Linked DNA regions of Homo sapiens: regions 2, 3, 4, 5, 6 and 7 are each reported to be linked to region 1. The links are microRNA targets in miRTarBase. Many come from high-throughput screens and were not tested one by one. Region 1 holds a microRNA gene; each other region holds the end of a gene's coding sequence.
Evidence for each region. The annotated mature microRNA hsa-miR-6499-3p reads AGCAGUGUUUGUUUUGCCCACA and lies in region 1 at 1,225-1,246, opposite strand. An mRNA with a match to its seed (bases 2 to 7 or 8) in the 3' UTR can be bound and repressed. Matches are read on the target gene's strand: a 7mer-m8 pairs with bases 2 to 8, a 7mer-A1 pairs with bases 2 to 7 and ends in A, and an 8mer does both.

Region 2: miRTarBase lists FOXP4 as a target of hsa-miR-6499-3p. The part of its 3' UTR that is shown has no 7-base or 8-base seed match.
Region 3: the mRNA of VENTX is a reported target of hsa-miR-6499-3p. Seed matches in the 3' UTR shown: 7mer-A1 at 919-925 and 7mer-A1 at 1,131-1,137.
Region 4: the mRNA of QPRT is a reported target of hsa-miR-6499-3p. Seed matches in the 3' UTR shown: 7mer-A1 at 999-1,005 and 7mer-m8 at 1,258-1,264.
Region 5: miRTarBase lists MMS22L as a target of hsa-miR-6499-3p. The part of its 3' UTR that is shown has no 7-base or 8-base seed match.
Region 6: the mRNA of MYCBP is a reported target of hsa-miR-6499-3p. The part of its 3' UTR that is shown has no 7-base or 8-base seed match.
Region 7: the mRNA of TNPO3 is a reported target of hsa-miR-6499-3p. The part of its 3' UTR that is shown has no 7-base or 8-base seed match.

The regions. Positions count from the first base shown.
Region 1 is chr5:151,520,864-151,524,004 of GRCh38, forward strand. It overlaps MIR6499 (microRNA 6499), which reads right to left and starts at 1,285; the gene lies at 1,224-1,285. It overlaps FAT2 (FAT atypical cadherin 2), which reads right to left. Exons shown (of 24, transcript NM_001447.3): 19 at 413-1,223. It also overlaps a transcript of SLC36A1 not described here. RefSeq lists an enhancer at 1,121-1,290.
Region 2 is chr6:41,598,431-41,601,430 of GRCh38, forward strand. It overlaps FOXP4 (forkhead box P4), which reads left to right. Exons shown (of 17, transcript NM_001012426.2): 17 at 359-3,000. The coding sequence ends at 506. MIR4641 (microRNA 4641) reads left to right here and starts at 293; the gene lies at 293-358. RefSeq lists enhancers at 1-394, 395-978.
Region 3 is chr10:133,239,699-133,242,839 of GRCh38, forward strand. It overlaps VENTX (VENT homeobox), which reads left to right. Exons shown (of 3, transcript NM_014468.4): 2 at 1-138; 3 at 234-2,230. The coding sequence ends at 608. Among named protein-coding and RNA genes, the nearest start is that of VENTX, 3.4 kb to the left of the region's middle.
Region 4 is chr16:29,696,945-29,700,085 of GRCh38, forward strand. It overlaps QPRT (quinolinate phosphoribosyltransferase), which reads left to right. Exons shown (of 4, transcript NM_014298.6): 3 at 52-183; 4 at 255-1,755. The coding sequence ends at 467. Among named protein-coding and RNA genes, the nearest start is that of QPRT, 19 kb to the left of the region's middle. RefSeq lists a silencer at 2,509-2,683.
Region 5 is chr6:97,144,064-97,147,204 of GRCh38, reverse strand. It overlaps MMS22L (MMS22 like, DNA repair protein), which reads left to right. Exons shown (of 25, transcript NM_001350599.2): 25 at 318-3,141. The coding sequence ends at 399. Among named protein-coding and RNA genes, the nearest start is that of MMS22L, 140 kb to the left of the region's middle.
Region 6 is chr1:38,861,933-38,864,932 of GRCh38, reverse strand. It overlaps MYCBP (MYC binding protein), which reads left to right. Exons shown (of 5, transcript NM_012333.5): 5 at 219-2,440. The coding sequence ends at 263. The region is part of intron 1 of RRAGC-DT (RRAGC divergent transcript); the gene reads right to left. It overlaps GJA9-MYCBP (GJA9-MYCBP readthrough), which reads left to right. Exons shown (of 3, transcript NR_037637.1): 3 at 219-2,443. Among named protein-coding and RNA genes, the nearest start is that of RRAGC-DT, 3.5 kb to the right of the region's middle.
Region 7 is chr7:128,954,815-128,957,814 of GRCh38, forward strand. It overlaps TNPO3 (transportin 3), which reads right to left. Exons shown (of 23, transcript NM_012470.4): 22 at 2,410-2,501; 23 at 1-571. The coding sequence ends at 2,441. Among named protein-coding and RNA genes, the nearest start is that of IRF5, 18 kb to the left of the region's middle.

The sequences.
Region 1 (3,141 bases):
CACTGTTCTAAGCAAGCACTTGATACATAGTACTGATGTAATTCCTACAGCAGCCCAGCTCAAAGGCACAGAGAGGTTAATTTTCCTAAAGTCGCCTGGTTAGTAAGGGGTAGAGCTGGGATTTTAACCCATGAAGACTGAAGCCACAGCCTATGCTCTTAGCCATGATGTTAAACCACATATTGTAGTCTTACTGTTATTTTCTAAATCTCGAAAGGGAGCTGAGAATTGGGTATTATTCCATAACTAGATTTTGTGAGGCCACTAGCCGTCTTATGGTGATTGGTGGCCTTTGGGCTTATTAAAACTTCCCTGAACTCTCCCACAGAGCCTCAGTGGAATCTCCATGCTTAGAGTCAGGCGGGCTGAGCCCAGCAGTGCTGCTCGTCCCTAGGGAAGATGTAGTACTTACCATTGCAGGAGCAGCTCCTCTGCAGGTGGTGCCGCGGGGTTAGGATGCTGAGCCTGGCGGTGCTGTACGTGGGCCCAACCTTGGGGTCCAGATGCACTGTGTTATGGCAGATTTGACCCTGGCAGGTTGGCCCCTGGCAGGGCACCATGGGCATAGCTGACCGCATCTGAACCCCCACTGAATGCTCCATCTCCTTGGCTGAGTGAGTGATGATGGATGCTAGCTCCTGAAACTCGTAGAAGGTTCCAGAATGCCCCTCAAAGACCAGGAGCACATCCACACCAGCCACGGCCTCTGCAGGCTGGAGGCTGGCCAAGTGAATGTTAGCCCGTTTGATGTCCAGCTTATGGCTGAGGAACCTCTGCAGGTTCCGCCAGTGGTCACTCACCAGCTCCTCGGGGGTGAGCTGGTAGAAGCCCATCCACATGGCCTGCTGCAGAGCCTCCTGCCCCACATGCCACACGTACACATGGACCCCAGCAGTCGTGGTGAAGGTCCCATCGCTGACCGTGACGTTGAACGAGTAGTGGCCACGAGGCAGGCCCTGGGCGGCGATAATCTTGCCATCAGGCGCACCCACTGAGAAGTGCCTGCCCAGGGTCTCCTCTTCTGCCAGGCTATAGGTCAGCGTGTCCTGGGGGTCTCGGTCTGTGGCATGGATCTTACCCACCATGCCACCCTGGAACTCATCCTCTCCAACAGTGATGAAGATCTCCAGTGGGAGAGCAGAAGGTGCATAGTGGCTCTGCTCTGTGACATGGACACGGACAGACGTCAAAGACGAGAGGGGAGGGATGCCACTGTCTGACGCCTGTGGGCAAAACAAACACTGCTGTCACCCAACAGAACTGCAGTGCTCTTGCGCCCGACTGAGGCTGGGCCTCCTTGTGGAGCTACGTTTCTCTGCCCCACGCCCAACTTGAGGGCTGGCTCAGCGCATTGTTGCATTTAGAAAAAAAAAACCTAACTCCAAAAGCACTGACAGAAAAGAAAGATTTTCTGAAGGTTTTGTAGAGATTGAAGGAGGGAGTTACATCCTATACCATGCAGTAAAACAATGCAGTTTCCTCATGTGACATCTCTCTGAGCCTCTTCCTAAATCTCTCCAGCCATAGACTTGGGCTAACTTCCTCATGAAGTTTCTCATTCTGTCCCTGTCCTCAAGGGCGCCCTCAGATGTCTCAGCAATTCTGATGCACCATGCACCCTGCTCAGCCTACGAAAATTCCCCTTGGGATTCCCTTTTGCTATGCGATTGGAGTGGGAGTCGGGATTTGTCCTTCTAGTCAGTCAACGAAGTCTTCTGCTGTGGCCAGGAGAAAAGAGACAATAAATAAGTTACCAAATAACTTGGATAAAATGCTGGGAAGGAAATAAACAGAGACCTAACTTTGATCAGGTAGAAGAGAAGGAGTCTCTGTGGAGTGACATTTGAGTCCTGAGGGATGAGAAGAAGAGGCGACAGACAGAGGGAGCAGCAAGTGTAAGGTCCTGGGGTAGGAATGAAGGCGGTGTGTTCAACAGCACAGACGGGGTCACTGGTGCTGGAGCAAGTGGGCAGGGAAGCAGGCCTGACCTCACTGATGGGCTGGCACGCGCAGGGTTGCAGTTAATGTCAGAACTGTGAAAAGCCGTGAGGGTGACAGGACCTCACTTAAGTAGGGAAAAGAATGTAAATCATAAACGCATTTTCCTTTCATGTTTCACCACACATCCCTGCAACTTCCTGCCTGACTTAGAAAGGACAGGCTTGCCTTCTTCTCCTCAGTGATGTTATCACTTCCTCAGCTGTCAACGAGGGTCTCCACAATTTTCCCTGTAGTAATATCTTGTTCACCTGCACTCCAACACTTTTAATGTACAAGAAAGTTGATAAGATTACACCTACTGCTGGAAGTCATGCATAACACCGAAGAGATATTAATAGCAACAATAATAATTAACACTACTGTTAATTATAATGTATAGCTAACATTAGTTACAACAATACTACTACTACCGATTATATATAATACATAGCTAACATTAACTGAGTACAATGCTAGTCATTATCATAGATAAACTATGATAATGCTGTAAATACATTATCCTAGTTTATCCTTCTTATGAGATAGGTACTATCAAGTCACCCATCCTACAAAAAATATAACTGAGGCTCAAAGAGGTGAAGTAACTTGCCCAAGGTCATACAGCAGCAGATAAGGCCTGAGCAGAATCTGAATACCTATCTGTGTCTATAGCCTGTGTTTTTCTTTGCTGGCCTATGGTGCCTCCCAGTGCATGGAAGTGGAAGTACGGGACCAATGCAATTGATGGTGATGATGCCAGTCATTACTAAGCTCCTGTCTAGGCAGGACGTGTGCCTGGGTCTGAGAATACAGAGGTCAGGAAGCCATTCTCTCTCATCTCTCCCTAGGCAATCACATCCATGCTCTTGGCTTTGAGGGCCATCTACCAATCCTCTGAGCTGCCAACTCCAATTCCCAGCTACCCACTGGACACCTCTGCTTGGATGTCTCACAAACAACTGGGAAATAATGTGCAAAACAGAGCTTCGGTTTAGCCCATAAACCTGTCCTGCCTTCCCGTCTGGGCCTTTCCAGTCTCATAAATGCACTACCACCGAAGTCTTCATGGGAGCCAACAATTTAGAAATCACCCCTGAATCGTCTCTGTTCTTTCTAACTGCACATCCACTCCACCAACTCCTATCAATTTACATACAAAAT
Region 2 (3,000 bases), not on the chromosome of region 1:
TGGTCTCGACCTCCTGATTTCAGGTGATCCACTGGCCTCGCCCTCCCAAAATGCTGGGATTACATGTGTGAGCCACCTCGCCTGGCCTCTCTTCTATCTTTCTTCTCCTTCCTCCGTTCGCTCATCTCCCCTCTGCTCCCCTCTTCTCTCCTCCCCAACCCAGAGCAGTCTCTGCCCCAGGACCAGCTTTTCTTTGAAGAGAGCCCTAGGGGAGATCAGCCCTCAGGTCTGATGGGATCCTGGGGAGGGGGCTGTGGGCACCCCACTGTGCCCCAGAGTTCTGGGTGAGTTTGGGGGGCAGGGGGCAGAGGGCATCAGAGGACAGCCGCCTGGTGCCCATGCCATACTTTTGCCTCAGCCACCAGGTGCAGGTGAAGGAGGAGCCAGCAGAGGCAGAGGAAGACAGGCAGCCCGGGCCTCCCCTGGGCGCCCCTAACCCCAGCGCCTCGGGGCCTCCGGAAGACAGGGACCTGGAGGAGGAGCTGCCGGGAGAAGAACTGTCCTAAGGGCCTGTAGTGACCGGCAGGGCTGGGGTGAGACCCCTCCCTTCCAGAATCCAGGCCCCATCTCCCCCAACTCCACAGCCCCTCCCGAGCCTCAAGGCAAGTCCAGGACTCAGACCGGGGAGGCCCGGGCCAGCAGCTCCCAGTGTGACCTGACAAAAACACGTAGGGGCAGGGACGGTCCCCACCCCCAGGGACACAACCCCTGGTCTTGGACCAGTAGAGGACACGGAGGGTTCAGACCCCTCCTCAGACCCTCCCCACATCTGAAACTGCCTCCCCCCAACCACCAGCAGCAGCAGGGCCCTCCTCCCCCACCAGCTCTCCCCACAGGGCCCCTCAGCATCATGGAGACCCGCAGGCGGGGCTTAGCCACCCCTCAAACCCAGGGCCCCCTGGCACCTGGCTCTGGCCGTGTTTTCTGGCCAGAGGCCCCCACTTTCCTAACTCGTGCTCCCTTCCGCCTTCTTTTCCGTACTGTGAAGAAAGAACTCTCCACCCCAGCTCCCACCCTGCCCTGGCCTGGGTGGAGGAACTGTGCCTCCATCCCCAGAAGAAACAGCCCCCTCTGCTGCTGGGGTGGGACTGTCTGTGTGCCCTGTGGGGGTCCGTGTGAGCAGGCCCACCTGGCTCCAGACCCGCCCCCAACCTGAGACAGAACCAGGCTGAGCCAGGCCTCCACCCCCACCCCCGTTTGCTGGGGGCTCCTCCAGCCGCCCCCATGGGAAGAGGCCTGGTACCGCCTCACCCACAGAGGTCTGTGCCAGGTGCGCTTCTGCAGGTGGAGCCAAGCTCTCCCTGAGGCCAGAGGCGGGGCCTGGGCCGGGAGCCCAGGGGAAGGCCAGGCTGGACCCCGGCTCCACACCCACATCCAGCCTGCAGGCCTCTCTGCAGTCCTCTCACCCTCCCTCAGCTCCCCTTCCTCTGCAGTCACCCTCAGCTCCCCTTCCTTGCCCGCCTCTCCCCCCGCCGCCCCACCAGTTAAACGGATGACCAAAGACCTTTCTTATGCCGGAAGCAAAAACCAAAACTTTTTGTTGGCTTTTTCCTTTGTCGCCTCCCCAGCACCTGCCCTCCCAGTCTCCCACCCCGGCCCCAGGCTGGAAGCCCTCCCTCCACTTAAGTTATTGTTTTAAACCAAAGTTTACAGTGTCTGTTGGTGGCCAAGACCTTCTCTCTCCACCCCTCCTCCATCCACCCTGAGGACCCTGGGGCTCAGTGGAGGCAGGGCCCTGCCCCCCTCCCTTCCGCTCCTGCCCAGCCTGGGGGAAGGAGAAAGGAGGGGAGAAAGCGGGCTCTCACCCCCTCAGGAGTGGGCACGGGAGCCCTTCTCCCTGACCCTGGGCTGCTTCCTGGGGGCTCTCCAGACCCCTCTCTAGGACCAAGTCACCCGTCGTGCTGGGAGTGTGGATTCTAGCAAAAGAGCTGGAAAAAAGTCAGACTCTCCACAGACCCCCTATGGGGGACCCCCAACTCAAGGCCAAGGACTGGGCGTATCGGATGCTCATAACACCCCTGGCCTGGCCCCTTTACTGAGAAGACTCCTTGGATATTTCCCAAGAACCCCCCACATACACCCCTCACAAGCCACCCCTCCTGAGAGGCAGGGGGCCCTCCGCCCCCTCCCCATGTATTCCCCACCTGTGTTCCGTTTGACCAGCACAGAAATATTAAACGTCCTCTATTCACCGGGCCCTGTGTGTGTCACCGAGGTGCGGGAGGGGAGGAGCATTAAAGCTGAAAGATCGCTCTGCTCGGGGAGCCTGGGCAGAGCAGCAGCAACGTGAGGGTCGCTGTGGTGGTGGTTTCTGTGAGTGGATGGAATGAGCAGCCCTGCAGGGGCGCTGGGCATGTGCCCTCACTGTGGACAGGGCCCACCCACCTCCGGTTCCCCTGTGCCTCCTGTCCCTTCCACGCTTAAACAGGGTTCTCTGTCATTTTCCTGTTTTCTTCCAGAGTCCCAATCCTTTGCCCTAGTTCTTTCACTAGTTTGAAATCCAAGTTCTTGCCAGAGTGTTGGAGCAAGGCAGCTGATTTGCTGCAGGGATGGAGAGGACCACCGCCGCAGGGTTCTTTTACCTGTGCCACCAGCTCTGGAGACATCCACACCCATTCCCAGGTGTCCTTCCAGGCCCATTGTCCACGTCTTCAAGGGGGCTGCCTGGATAGGCGTGTGTGTGTGTAGTGCCCAGGTGTGGTGGTGGCATCCTGAAGCAGTAGGACCATTAGTGTGCGTGCACACCCACGTGGCACACTGTGTGGTGACCATGGTCATCATAGTGGGCTCACGGCGGAAACGGGATCATTCAACCTATACAAAGGGGACCCTGGATAGGCTGCAAGGAAAGAGGCCAAGGGCCAAGCTGCTAAGCCAAAGATGGCCCCTGACACCTCCCCCAGCCCCAGCACACCAGCCTGCACCTCTTATCCCGTGTTAAGTCCTGGTTCCCCACCTGCTGCCCCTCCTCAACACAGAGCCCCTCCCGCCGCCTCAGAC
Region 3 (3,141 bases), not on the chromosome of region 1:
TTGCGGGCCCCCCGTGTCCGCACAGCCTTCACCATGGAGCAGGTCCGCACCTTGGAGGGCGTCTTCCAGCACCACCAGTACCTGAGCCCTCTGGAGCGGAAGAGGCTGGCCAGGGAGATGCAGCTCTCAGAGGTCCAGGTGAGGTGGGCCGGGCAGGCTGGGGTGGGCAGGGGTGGGCAAGGGTGGGCTGGTGGCCTAGTCTCACCCCTGTTCTGATCTTGCTTTTCCTACAGATAAAAACCTGGTTTCAGAATCGCCGCATGAAACACAAACGGCAAATGCAGGACCCCCAGCTGCACAGCCCCTTCTCGGGGTCTCTCCATGCGCCCCCAGCTTTCTACTCAACGTCTTCTGGCCTTGCCAATGGCCTGCAGCTGCTGTGCCCTTGGGCACCCCTGTCCGGGCCCCAGGCTCTGATGCTGCCCCCTGGCTCCTTCTGGGGTCTCTGCCAAGTGGCACAAGAGGCCCTGGCATCTGCGGGAGCTTCCTGCTGCGGGCAGCCTCTGGCGTCCCACCCCCCTACCCCAGGCCGGCCTTCGCTGGGACCAGCCCTGTCCACGGGGCCCCGGGGCCTGTGTGCTATGCCACAGACGGGGGATGCATTTTGAGGAGGCACCTCTGACTCCCACACTCGCGGTCTTGCTGATCGCACCTGGCTCCTACCTGGAGGACTCAGTTGTTCTGTTTACATCCTGGTGGCACCTCTCACCCTGACCCACACAAAGGTTCTGGAGATTACTGGAGAATATATATAAATATATATATGTACGTATATATGTAAATACACATATACGTATATATAAATATATATATACATATGTGTGTGTATATATATATATATTTTTTTTTTTTTTTTTTTTTTTGAGACGGAGTGTTGCTCTGTCACCCAGGCTGGAGTGCAATGACGCAATCTCGGCTCACTGCAACCTCCGCCTCCTGGGTTCAAGCGATTCTCCAGCCTCAGCCTCCCGAGTAGCTGGGATTACAGACACCCGCCACCACGCCCGGCTAATTTTTTCTATTTTTAGTAGAAATGGGGTTTCACCATGTTAGCCAGGCTGGTCTCAAACTCCTGACCCTGTGATCCGCCCGCCTCGGCCTCCCAAAGTGCTGGGATTACAGGCATGAGCCACTGCACCCGGCCCTGAGAATATATTTATTAAAGCCACCTCTTCACTGAAAGTTACCGAAAGAGTCGGTTTAGGAAGGAAACGAAGGGTCAGTGAACAGAGTCAAATGCAGAAGTGGGCTTGTCATGGGTAGGGCTTTCGGCGTACGATAAAAGGATCATTTGTTTTTTAAAAGGGGTTGGAAAAACTGGTTTTCCAGTTGGAAACAGTAAAGGTTGTAAGCTTTGTGTGTACAAAAGAAAACAGGGAATGCAGGTGTGTTTATAGCGTTGTGGTTCAAGTCCCTCTTAACAAGAACTCCAAAGCTGGAAAGCAGGAGGGAACAAAGGTGAACATGAAGGCGAGGATGCTGGGGCCCTGCAGTGCGCTCTAGGCTGTGCGTGAGCCGGGACTGTACCCACAGCTTGCTGAGGGCTGCTCTTCTTGGGCCAGGGAAAGCAGGGCAGCCGGGACCTGCGGCTGTGCCTGGACTGAAGCTGTCCCGCAGGTCCCCACCCTCCAACACGTGCTCACCTGTCCCCCTGCTCGCAGCAGCCTCGGGACAAAACAATGACTCAAGGACAGCACTTCTTGCAGAAGGTCTGGAAGTGCCCAGAATGGGAGGCACGGAAGCCCCTCCCGGGGAGGACTCCCGCGTTGATGGACCGTTCTTGGTGCAGACTCCTGACTGCGTGCATGAAACCTGAGACAAGTGCAATTCCTTCCATGTCGCCCCAGAGTGCCCAGGAGGCAGGCAGTGCGGGGTGCCCAGGCAGACGGGTTCAGCCTGCAGAACTGGAGGCGACCTGTGAAACCCACCCGGGCACCCCAACAGGAACAGAAGCGTGGTCCTGCGGCTGCGTCCCCAGCGAGTTTCACTTTCCCCTTGCTCGTTTCTCCCTTGTTGTAAGTGTTTACAACTGGCATGTGCTTTTAAACGTCAGGTAAGAGGGGAACAGCTGCTGTACATCGTCCTGGCGAGTGACAATGTGACAGAAGCCTGGGCGAGGCCCTCGGAGGGCAGCAGCTGGACAGGGACTACTGGGTTTGGCCTGGACAGCACTGATTTGTGGATGTGGATGGGGGCACGTTGTCCGTGATAAAAGTACAAGTGCCCCTCACCGCCCGTGGAGATTGCTTTCTGGTCCCCTGTGTGGCCCCAGGCCACAAACCACACCGTCTTGGTCCTGAACTCTCCCGGTGAGTAAGGGCCCTGGCCTGGTGGTGTCTCGAGGTCCTGCCAGCACACTGGGCCCTACAAGGTGGGCAGCCCCTTGGGGCTGAGCTGTGCCTGTTCGGAGGCACACCTGGGCCTCCTTAGGGCCCTGGCTCCATCCTGCAGATGAGGAGCTCTGGAAAAGGGCAAAGTCCCGGAGGCTGAGGAGTGGGGCGGGCTCCAAGTGTCCAGCAGGGACCTAGACCCTGAGTTCTGGGGGATCCACAAGGCCCTCAGGCCCAGGGAAGGCTCTGCCACCCACGACTTCCAAACTTCTCTCCCTGTCCCCCATCCGGGGCTGCAGAGTGAGTTGGCCCAGGCCTCATGGGCTGCTGGTATCTGGGTGGACCTTGAAGACCAAGATGCCCCCAAGCCCTACTCCACCCACCTGCTGCGTCACAGCTGGCCGGGATGCAGTGACCACTCCGCTGGCCTCAGCCTGTTTCCGCTCTCCCCTGGGGGCCTTCCTCACATCCCCACAGCCTGTTTCCGCTCTCCCCTGGGGACCTTCCTCACATCCCCGCAGCCTGTTTCCCACTCTCTTCTGGGGTCCTCTGGCTGACAGCTGGACGTCAGTCCCAGAGTTTGGCAAGTCCTCTGCTCCTGGATGCCCCCAGCTGCCCCCACAAGCACAGTGCCCCAGGTGCTCTTGGCCCCACCCCACTCAACATCCCCATGTGGACATCTTACAAGCACTGGGGGTCCTGACCTGACTGGGGGCGCAGGGCGGCGGGGCAGAGACACCTACACATCCCGGGCAGAGGAAGGCGGTCAGAAGCTGCAGCTGTGAGGAGGTCTCAGCACAGCTGGGCACGA
Region 4 (3,141 bases), not on the chromosome of region 1:
TGCCAGGTGCTGGGCCCAGTCCTCACCCTTGTCCTCCCGGCTGCCCAGCAGGCGGTGCGGGCGGCCAGACAGGCGGCTGACTTCACTCTGAAGGTGGAAGTGGAATGCAGCAGCCTGCAGGAGGCCGTGCAGGCAGCTGAGGCTGGTGCCGACCTTGTCCTGCTGGACAACTTCAAGCCAGAGGTAAGGTGGGCTCTGCCTCCGGGGAGGGATCTGTGGTGGGCTCTTACCTCCCCTTGGCTTGTGTCCCGCAGGAGCTGCACCCCACGGCCACCGTGCTGAAGGCCCAGTTCCCGAGTGTGGCTGTGGAAGCCAGTGGGGGCATCACCCTGGACAACCTCCCCCAGTTCTGCGGGCCGCACATAGACGTCATCTCCATGGGGATGCTGACCCAGGCGGCCCCAGCCCTTGATTTCTCCCTCAAGCTGTTTGCCAAAGAGGTGGCTCCAGTGCCCAAAATCCACTAGTCCTAAACCGGAAGAGGATGACACCGGCCATGGGTTAACGTGGCTCCTCAGGACCCTCTGGGTCACACATCTTTAGGGTCAGTGGCCAATGGGGCACATTTGGCACTAGCTTGAGCCCAACTCTGGCTCTGCCACCTGCTGCTCCTGTGACCTGTCAGGGCTGACTTCACCTCTGCTCATCTCAGTTTCCTAATCTGTAAAATGGGTCTAATAAAGGATCAACCACATGGGGTTCTGCGGTGATAATGAGCACATAGTGAGGGGTCAGCAAATGTCAGAAGTTACCTGGGACAGCCGGGCACGATGGCTCACACCTGTAATCCCAGCACTTTGGGAGGCTGAGGCGGGAAGATCACTTGAGTTCAGGAGTTTGAGACCAGCCTGGCCAACATGGTGAAACCCCATCTCTACCAAAAATAGAAGAATTAGCTGGGTGTGGTGGCACGCGCCTGTAATCCCAGCTACTTAGGAGGCTGAGGCAGGAGAATCGCTTGAACCCAGGAAGTGGAGGTTGCAGTGAGCTGATGGTGCCACTGCACTCCAGCCTGGGTGATAGAGCGAGACTCTGTCTCCAAAGAAGAAACAAAGGAAAGAAAGAGAGAAAGAGAGAGGGAGGGAGGGAGGGAGGGAAAGGAAGGATGGAAAGAAAGGAAGAAAGGCAGGCAAAAGCCCCAGACAGGCCAAAACCTTCATCCTTCATGCACCCAACCTGTACCAAACACCAGCATGGCCTGGCTGTGAGTGCACAGCAGATGGAGGTTTGCTGGGCAGAGACACTGGGCTGGCCTAGACACTGCCTTTGGTGATACCCTAAACCAAAGGGGCCAGTCCCACAGTAAGAAGGAGACCACTACTACTCCTGCTGCCCTCCTCCCCCCACCTTGCCTAGTTTACAAGACAGGAGGAAAGAGAGAAAGCAAAAAGTTAGAAAACAAAACAAAACAGAAGTAAGATAAATAGCCAGAAGACCTTGGCGACACCACCCGGCCCTGGTAGTTAAAAAAAAGTAACAATAATAATAATATCAACCCCTGACCTAAACTACTTGTGTTATCTGTAAATTCCAGACATTGTATGAAAAAGCATTGCAAAACTTTCTGCTCTGTTAGCTGATGCGTGTAGCCCCCAGTCACGTTCCCCGCTTGCTTGAGATATCATGACCCTTTCACGTGGACCCCTTAGAGTTGTAAGCCTTTAAAAAGGCCAAGAATTTCTTTTTCAGGGATCTCAGCTATTAAGATGCAAGTCTGCCAATGCTCCTGGCCAAATAAACCTCTTCCTTCTTTAATCCGGTGCCTGAGGAGTTTTGTCTGTGGCTCGTCCTGCTACAAGAGGACACAGCCCAGAGGTGCCACCTGCAGCTGCCCTGTCCCCTCTAATCCCAGCTCCACCCTGCCTGCTCCCGTCCTTCCTCCAGGGGGAACATGGACACGCTCAGATGAACCCCAGCTTCTTATGCCTGAACTGGGGAAACTGAAGCCCCATGGGACCAGGGGTTCCACTGGGCATCAAGGGAGGAAAGTTGAGCCCCGGGGTGATCTGGGAACTGGGATCTGGGATCTGGGCAGGCATTGGGGCCTGACAGAGCAGAAGTGAGGAGAGGGTACCAGGAGCTGCAAACTCGGTGCCTCCAGGACCTATTCGGATAAAATAAATGGGTGGAACTGGAATAAGACAAAGTGGGGGTGCGCTGTGGCCAACTGGAAAATGCTCGTTGCAGCCACAGCGTTCCATTAAAAAAGCGAAAGGAACCTGCCTGCCTGAGTCTTAAGCTCCCCCTAAACCCAGAAATGGGTTAGCCCTCCAGTATCCTCCAGCTCTGAGAGCTGGGGCGGGCACTCCATTACTGGGGGAACAGGAAATGGATCCTGGGCACTCTAGGGCAACACACGCCCTCCTTGCAGGGAAATGGATTTCCAGGCAGGGGAGATGCATGGGCAGAGGTGGCTTGGATTGTTTGCTGTAAGATTTGAAGCTGTGATCAGGAGGTGGCTAGGAGATGGGCTGGGTCCAGACCACAAAATGGTAGATCGGAGGATTTGGACTCTGTCTCATGAGTGAGCTGGAAATCAAGCTGGAAAATCAGATAAGCTTATTCGCAGCTTCAATCCAGTCCGTTGCAGAAGGATGCATTTGAGGGGGCTAGAGCAGCTGCAGGGAGGCCAGGAGGAGCTGTGGAAGAGGACTTGAGTGTGGGTCATGGCCATGGGGTTTGGAGAGAAGTGATACAGTGTCTTCAGAGCTTCAGAAGGCAGAGGGAGTTCGATGGCTCAAGGCAGTTGGAAGAGTTGGGTGTGACTGAGGGGGTGGGGAAATGGGGCATGCGTGGCAGGCAAGGACTCTTATGCATCACCTCCCAGTCCCTTGTCCATCTGGCTACACTTCCTCTTTGCCTGGCCAGCCTAGGACCAAGCTGGGATCATTTCCCCAGGATGCCCCACAGACAATGGCAAATGTGCCCATCATAGCAGTTTGTTTAATGAAAATGATATGCTGTTGTGAGTACGGGATGTGCCAGCAATGCTGGCTACTGCATGAGACGGGAGCTAGCAGGGAGCACCTTCATCCAGGGTGTGCAGGTCCCCTTCCCTCAGTTAATGCTCGTGGGGGCGGGCGTTAGCCTCTCCACTTACCGAAGAGGAGACTGAGGCTTTATAAAGTTAAGAGAGCTGCT
Region 5 (3,141 bases), not on the chromosome of region 1:
TGTCCTTAAATAATATTCCATGAATGCATTTTATTACCCGTGAGCATTATAATATTTCGGAAGGTTAATGAACTTTTACATGTCATTTTTAGCACACATTTTATATATAAAAATCATACTTTAATACATCTTAACATCTAGGTTTACTCACAATAGATATAAAGCATTACTTTTTAAGAAGTGTTGTGCTAAGCCTGCTGGATGGATGGCTGAATAGATGGATGGATGGATGATGGGCAGACTTAATTTGTAAATACTGAAATGAAAAATAATGAAAATGTTAATATATTTGCTTTCTTTTCTTTTTTCTTAAACAGGGAAGCCTATAGCAAACTTTTGTCTCACCTTGGACAGATGGGACAAGATGAGATGCAGAGACTGGAAAATGATAATACTTAATATATTTTGTGATTCATCCTGTCTATTAATTATCAGTATCTAAAGCCACATTGTTCCACTCTAATTCCTACTTTTAATTAATTGTATAATGTTCTGTTTAAAATAATTTCTAGGATTTTTTTTCCTTTTATATCTGTAAGTAAAAAATGTATAAATAAGGAACTGAAGGTTAATTAGCAACTGTGTAATAGGATCCTTGGAACTTTTTACAAAACTGCATTCTACCTTGATGAAATTTTAGTTAAACTAAATTAAAGAAACATTTTCTGAGAGTGTTTTCTGTGTGTGAGTATTAAGCAGATACTTCATCCATAGACTTTTTGTTGTAGTATGACTTCCTGCCTCCCTGCCTTGTGACTGATTTGTCATGTTTATTTTTTATTTTTACAATAATAGTTATGTTTTAAAATGATACTTTTTCAAAGTACCTGGCTACCCTATACTGTGTTTTTGGTGGGGGAAAGGTGTTGGGAAATGTGACTGTGTATTTGTTTTTCTTTTTTATATGTGTGAGGCAAGTTAACAAAGAAAACCCTTACAAAGCACACTTAACTGTGTTAGGAATGAGACTGAATCTGGCTAAAGGATTATACAGCTGATATCCAAAAAGAAGTGTAAACATGCCAACAGGGTTTATATTTAGGTTCCAAGAGTTGCCAAATTTTTTTTTTATTCATCCTTTCTTTTGGAGTTGTCATTAAAAAAAAAATCATATCAGGAGGAGGAAATAAAGGAGACTTTAAGAGGAGAGTAAATAAAAATATTCTAGAAAAGTAACAATAGTAGTGGTCTGAGAAGTCAGCTGATCCATCTTCTTGCTCTTTAGCCAGAGCTTCTTATAACTTAGCATTTTATCCAAGAAACCTGTTTAGTTTCCTTTAACAACATTGTTTCTCAACTTTTGAACTCTTAACTCATCCAGATTGTTTTACCAGTTGGAGCTTGTCCTTGACTCCTTTTCCTATTGAGCATTATTTGGTTGAAAGAGCTCCAGTCCTAGTTTTGGGAACCCACCTGGGTCTCAAACTCAGCTTTGCTTTATGATCTTGAGCTAGTTACGTAACCTTTCTCAGTCTAGTTTCTTCATGGAGAAGAAAAGAAGAATCCCTTTACTATTTGACAGTGTTGTTGTGAGAATCAATGGGATAATGTACGTGAAAATATTTGGTGGCCCAAATTCTGTTGGGAAATGTACAGACACGATTAGTTTATTACTCGTGCACAATTAAGGCAAAGAACACCTCTCAATTTTATCTTTCTCTAATGATATGTCCCAGATGAATGATCCCACTTTCCAATGTTTTCTTACATCATGTTTTCTAACTTTGAAGTACTTTGTTTCCTTCTTGGGATTATAGTCTTTATCATGGTTCTACTCTTCCTTCAAGAAAACATTTCAACCCTTCTCTGGCTCAAGGAGTATCTTTAAAAATGAAATACTTTGCAATCAGTATTCTGTAGTTAATAGCGTTCTCTTAATTATAATCTGTGAAATCCAAAGGAGTGTCTGTTATTTTCATAACATATAAATGGTCCTTCTCTCAAATCAGCTTCATCAAAGGGAATAAATGAAAGCTTAAGGCTGTTTAATAGACTTCATAACACTGAATTTCTTTTCATCATGATAGTGACTTACTAAACAAATAATGTATGGCTTGGAAAGTTCCAGCAGTCACTAAGGAGTTTTATCTATTTAAGGTGATGCCTTTAAAGAGGTTATTTATGTGTATATGTGTTTTTGTGTGTGTGTGTGTGTGTGTGTGTGTGTGTGTGTGTGTGTGGGTTTTTTTTTTCCAAAGGAGATTGATAAAGATACCTTTGAGAATCTTGCTCCTTAGAGTATGAAAACGTTTAAAGGATAGGAAAAGCTGCTACTGAATCATGCTTTAGGACATATATCTATAGATACTAAGAATAACTAAAATTTGTACTTAAGAATGGTAACAACAAAGTGTGTAACAATATGTGTGTGTATTATATGTTTTGTATTTATGTATAAGTAACTTTTTTTAAAGCTTTTTTTTAAATTGAAAAAAGAAGAAAATTTATGGCTCAGTTCCTTTTTTTTAAAATCTTCACTGATCCTTCACTTATTACTACAATCTTGCCCTCTTTCATTCCCAGACTTGGAGTCCCTTATACCTGCTTCTTTAATAGCCACTTTCCCTAAATACCCTGTAATTTCTGAGGCTGCTGCTTCTACCAGTGTAATACAAGCCATTGTCTTTTGGTCAAATCTGAGTTTGTTCTCCTTTCTCATGTTCTTTGTCCTCTCTGTGACAATTGTATTTTCTTTTATCTTCCCATCATTTCCACAATGGTACTGCTCCTTCCTACATATACAGTTGACCCTTGAGCAACACAAGTTTGAACTGTGCAGGTCCACTTATATGTGGATCTAAAATACAGTATTTGTGGGATGCAAAATCTGAGTATATGGAGGACCAACTTTTTGTAGAGGCAGGTTCCTCAGGGTTAACTGCAGGACTTGAGTAAGTGCAGATTATGGTATGCACAGGGGATCCTGGAACCAGTCCCCAGACCAAAAATGACCACTGTATCTTGAGAGCACCTTCATGGTCTTCTTTCCTGTCCCCAGTCGTAAGATACGACCCTTCATCTGCTTTGTCTCAACATTCTGTTAGTGGTGAACTGATAACTCCAGCTTTTCTCTCTCTTTTTTTTTTTTTTTTTTTTTTTGTTGTTGTTGTTGTTGTTGTTTTGAGGCAGAGTCTTGCTCTG
Region 6 (3,000 bases), not on the chromosome of region 1:
CAAAGCAATTTTAAAGGTTTATATAAAAAGGGCTTTCATTAGATTTGATTGTATTAAATCTTAAATCACTGAATGATTTAAAATGGATAGTTATAGAAACTGATATTAATACAATTTACTGACAGTAACTAAGTTGAATATAACAGTTACCTTGTTTTACTATTTTTTACTCAATTTAGAATAAAATTCACCTAAATTCCTCTGTCTTTGCCCCATAGCTTGCTCAGTATGAACCACCTCAGGAGGAGAAGCGTGCTGAATAGGATTCTTCTCAGTTTGAAAGACAATGAAAAATGGTTTTGTATGACTTGAATAGTTTGTATAGTATATAATCTTTTCTGAACAGATGCTATAGAACTCTTTTAATATGTTTAATTCACCTATCACACTCTGTTAAAAACACATAGAATCATCAATAAAAACTCAATATAACTTTCTTTGGGTCTTAAAGCAGGAGAATCCAAAGTAAATCCTGAACAAAACCTAAACACAGCCATCTAACTCATTACCTTAAAAGACATTCTGTTTATTAGTCTGATTAGGAATGATGGCACTGGTTGTATTTTAGCCAAGACAGTTTAGCATGGAGCTATTCCTTGGTGCAGTTCAGGATATGAACACAGGTACAGTCATTCTTTGAAGGTGACACTGTTCTGTATATTCCCTATAGGCAGCTGGAGAGATCTGTGTGACACAAGATGCTTTTGTACGGGTTCCCATGAATCTTCTGCTCTTGTTTGTGTGACATGGAACAAATAACTTCTTTGCCACCACTTTGCCTTAGATAACTGTGTGTGTGTGTGCCAGTTTGAACTCTGACACCACATTTTCCTTCTATGCAATCATGCCTGTCTGATAATCTTGCATTGCTTTCCTCTGAGCTTTAGTGGGTCCTAGTTGCACACTGGCCTTTCTGTGCTGTTTTTCAATTTGCCTAATAATAGCAGTTACCCTGATTGTAATTTATGTAACTTTAAACAGGATCACACTGTACCCCCTGCCTGCCTTATTTGCTTACTGAGCACAGGACAGAGGCAATATACAACTCTGGGTTCACACACAAGCTGAGATGAGAAGAGGAATGAGCCATATATTGGGGAAAATCATAGTTTGTAGGTATAATTATATAGTGCTTTTCTCCCTCAAAGTATTTTTCTAGCCTTGAATTCATTTTATCTTCATTATCCCTGTGAAGTAGGTGGGACAAGTATAAGGGGAAGAGGGGTGCTGAATTTTTAGGCCAAAGACTGATATTAATACAAATCACTCACTAACTGTAGAGCCTTGGGCATTATCAGTGAACTACTCTGAGATTTACTGTCTTCATCTGTTTAATGAGTAGAATGTCCGTGATGCCTACCTCACAGGGTTGTTGTGAGGGTCAAATGAGAATGTATGTGAAAGATTTGTAAATGGTAAAGCACTATATTCTTGTTTGTTAGTCCTTTTTCCTTTCTTTGGGTAGACCTACAGTCAGATGTTTTGTTTTATGGATCACTTATTTTCCTTACTGGTAGACTGTCGTTTTATAGACATATTCCTATTTCATATATTCTCTCCCTGTTGTTAGAGAACCTATCTTTGTTTTTGGTCAAAACACACATAGAAAACAAAATGATCCAATGAAAACTGGTTTAACTAGCAAAAGCCTTGGCACCTGTTGGAGACTATGACCAAGCCAATAAAAAGGGCATTTAAATCAGCCCTGTTAGTAGGAATGTGGCTATGGCTGGTGCCTCTTCTAGTCACAAGTTTGTTTTTGGAGGGGGTCCAGAAGATCATTCCCTTGCATAGATTTCTCTTTTACCAATTTGAGTGCCTCCTACATGGGCAGCAGTGGACTAAGTGCTGGGTGTGATAAAGAGGAATGACTTAATTATGAGACTGTATATAATCAAATACAGTGTGGGTTAGGACCTGTGGCAGACCATTATAATAAAGCATGGCCCCGTGAGGGTTTTGAAAGAGAGAGAGACTTGGCTTCCTTAGTTGGTATGATAGTTTCTTGGTAGATACAGGTTGAAAATTTTTTGTGGCAGCCAATCCTCATGGGCTTTTTACTCATTTGATTAGTATTAATATTTATGTCAGTAAGCCAGGTGACTGTGACTGTCTTTGGTACCATCCTTTTTGAACAGAAAGGCAACATGTGGGTTGGATAATCACACTTTTAGGTGAAACTGACTTGCTTAAACTGTAACAGTCAGTGCTATTTAAGAATTCAGGATAAGCTTAGCCTCTAGAGGTCCTCTTCAACATTTCTGTCAAGGATTTGGATGAATACAACAAGATGCTCCATGGAAGAGAAAATGGATAAATGGATCCCACCAGTTAAGCTCCTATTATGCTTCAGCTGCTTTGTCTATAAAATATCGACTTCACATCTTGCCTATCTCACAAGTTGGTTGTAAGAATCAAATTAAATATAATGGATGTAAAAGTGCCTTGCAAACTGTAAAGGATTACATACAGACCAGATGGTGGTAGTGCCAAATCTGTAAGTGACACAAATTGGAAAGTCTGGTTGGAAGACTATATTGAAACAAGCTTTAAAATGATTAACCACGTGGAATACCCAAACTGCTGGGCCTAAACCAAAAAGTTGAAGTATCAAGTCTTACATTTAGGTTAAAAAATGCAGTTATACACATTTAGGCACTAGGATTGCTGACAAAGTATTAGTTACAGTGATTATCAATGTGACCCACCCTATGGATGCTTAAAAAAAATTACATTCTGGAAAGCAGGAATAGAAATACTGTCTAGGTGTTAAATGGTCATTCTGAAAGTTGTACTGTTTAGTATTGCTTTGTAGGAGTCAGATGTTTGATGGATATTGACAAGCTGGAATGCATATAAAGAGTGACCAATAGAGGATTTGAATATATAAGGCTGGGCTCTCCGATTTGGTACACACTAGCTGCAAGTGGCAGTTAAAAATTTAAGTTCCTGGTGGGGTGCCGTGGCTCACACCTGTAATCTCAGCATTTTGGGAGGCCA
Region 7 (3,000 bases), not on the chromosome of region 1:
GAGAAAGAGAAGGAAGGGTAGGAGAGGAAAGAGAGGACAAAACAATAGAAAACCTGAACAAATGACCCTGACCCTCTTCTTCCAATTGCAGCTATTTAATTCATGTGAATCCCCACATTATCCCTAAGTAAATATTTTGTTTCACAGAAAGCTTGTCCTTTTGTTTTTCTGTGTACACGTGCGCACTGGCGCTTGTGCGTGTATGTGTGTGTGCGTGCATGTGTCATTTGCTACCAGGTGAATGTTTCAGTTCTGGTTTCTGTTTAGTCTTCCTTTTTTTTCTTTTTTCTTTACTTAAAATTATTTTTCCTTTTAGAAAGTTCACCAGGAAACCAGCTCCCCTCCCACCACGCCGGGCAGGCCACAGCCATCTTTTTAAAATCCGCGCTGATTTTCCCTCACACCCCCAAACAGGAACTCCTCAGGATGGCCTCAGAAGGCTGGAGTCTCTCCCTGTCTGGCGGGACACCCTGGTGGCGGTGAAGGCCCCTCTGCCACAACGGAGGTTTCTGATTGTGGGACACAGTCTGGTTTTTGTTTTCTTCCTGTCTTCTAATTAAAAAAGACATTCCTGACAAAAGAGATAAGACAGTCAATAACTGCACCAGAAAATAGAGCATTTAGTAAAATCAACCTTAAGGCAGAGGTTTCTATATTTCCTCAGGTACCTCATTCTGAAGTCTGCCAATAAGAACTCAGAAAAAATAAACAAATAAATAAAAGTCTGGCGTTTTAACTTGTGGGTTCAAGGGAGCTACTGCTTTAATGAGACACCGTCTGCAGTGTGCTTCCAATGCTGAGTGTGCTGTGGAAACAAGGGATGATGTGTCAGGAGGGCAAAGAGCCAGCAGGTCCAGGCCTCCCATTCCAAAGCAACCAGGGAAGCTTTGCCTCAGTCTGCTAAATCCCACAGGCTTCATGTCGATTTTATTTTGAAAGAAGGCTTTGCCTACTAATAACAGTTGAAAACAAAACAAAACAAAACACCAATTTAGATGCTATCGAAAGGATACTGTATTAAGCGGAGTGGTTCAAAGTGAGGACTCTGGTACCAGAATATCTACATGTGAATTCTGGCTCCACGAATAACTGTCAGGCAAATTGTTAAACATTGTTGAACCTCAATTTCCTCATTTGTAAAATGGGAAAAATAGTAACAAATCCAGAAAAGCAGATGAGGATTATCTTAGTTAATACATCTAAAACACTTAAAACAGTGCCCTGACACACAGTAAGGGCACAATAAAAGTTAACCATGAACACCTACAGCTGTCCATGAGCAACCTTATGAGGTGTATCAATGTCAGCTAACCCAGACACCATGCAAAACCAGGACATCCCAAATGATATTATTACTCATTAAAACAATCAAAGTTGAGAAATGATTTTGGGTGTGGCAAGGCACTGCTGAACATCACTTTTACCTATGAATGCATTTAACACAGAAACTACCAGTGAGTGCTACAGATTCATCAAGAATTGCCTCCTGGGAGAAGAAACTCACCTTGAGACATCAAAGGGTGGGCTTAGAGGAGAGCTACCTTTCTTCTCTCCATCAAGAAACTGGCACCCAAATTCTACTACCCACTCCTTTCAGCTAAGCTTCTTGCTTTGCTTCAGAACCAGGAGACGGAAAGCACGTGGAGAAAAGTGCTCATCGGGAGCCAAAGATGCTCCTCCTCTCCTGTAAGGGCCAAGCATCCCTAACAGCTGAAACTTTTTGAACGCTGATATGACCCTCAAGCGAATGAGCATTGGAGCATTTTGGATTTTGGATTTTTGGATTAGGAATGCTCAACTGGTGTGCATTCTGCAAATATTCCAAAATCCCAAAAAATCCAAAATTGAAAAACACTTCTGAAAGTGTTTTTTCCTCCGAAATCCCAAGCATTTCGGATAAGGGATATTCAATTCATACCTCCTGCCCTGGTCAAAACCTGGCACTTCAGCATTCAGGTCATAAAAGTGATAAGAATAAGCTCTTTGCTCATTACATCTGGAGGGTCAGTTTTAGGAGACTGGCACCACATATAACAGTCAACTTGAGGTTGTTTTCGCCAAAGTGGCCAGGTTAAAAATACTTATTTGTTTGTTGCCATGTACACTTACCATCTTAGAAGTGTCTGTAAGGGGAAGGGGGAAGAAAATGTTTCAATGCACTGTGTAACAGTTACTTTCTTATGGAGGTGAAAATGGTACCCCAAAGACACTGACAATTACTGGCTGCCCAGGCCCAAGAAAATCCGGGCCCTGTATATTCCAGCTGTTCACCACAGTTAAACTGCTGAGTCCTTCCCTGACTCTAGCTATAAGACTGGTCCCATGATAGGCATTAAAACCTATCCCCATTCCCAGGCATCCCCAACAGTCCGACAGTCCGGACAAAAGCTGGGAACTATGTATCCTCACCTGGGTGACAGGCACAGTGCAGGAGTGTGAGCTATCGAAACAACCTGGTGAAGTCTCGCAAGGCCCAGCAAACTTGTTTACATTCCTCAGCACTAGAAAAGAAAAGGTAGGTTGGTCCTTGACTGAGGAGAAAGACAGAATATGCTGAAAAACAACTGCAACATTGGGGCACACTGAGAACCGTCCCAACTCTGCTAGGAGCTCTCTCCATCGTCTCCTGAGCGATCCTGGCTTCAGATCTTTCTGTAATTCAGGGCAAAAATTATTATATATGAGAAAAGTTATAAGCTTGGTGGTCTTCAAAGGGTGTACTCTGGACACAAACTGCCCGAGTTTGAATCTTGGCTCCACTGTGCCCTTGAACAAGTTACCAATCTTTGTCTCAGTTTCCTCATCTATTAATATTATCTACTTCATAACACTGTTTAGAGGATTAAAATCGTCCACATACAGAGTGCTTATGAAAATAGAGCAGTGAACAAAATAGTATTCAATAAATGTAGGCTGCTACAACAACACTTGGTTGCTACGGCTCTCATAAGTTTCCTCATTCTCTTCCAAAGATAGATTTTGTTTACAAAGGCCGGTCTA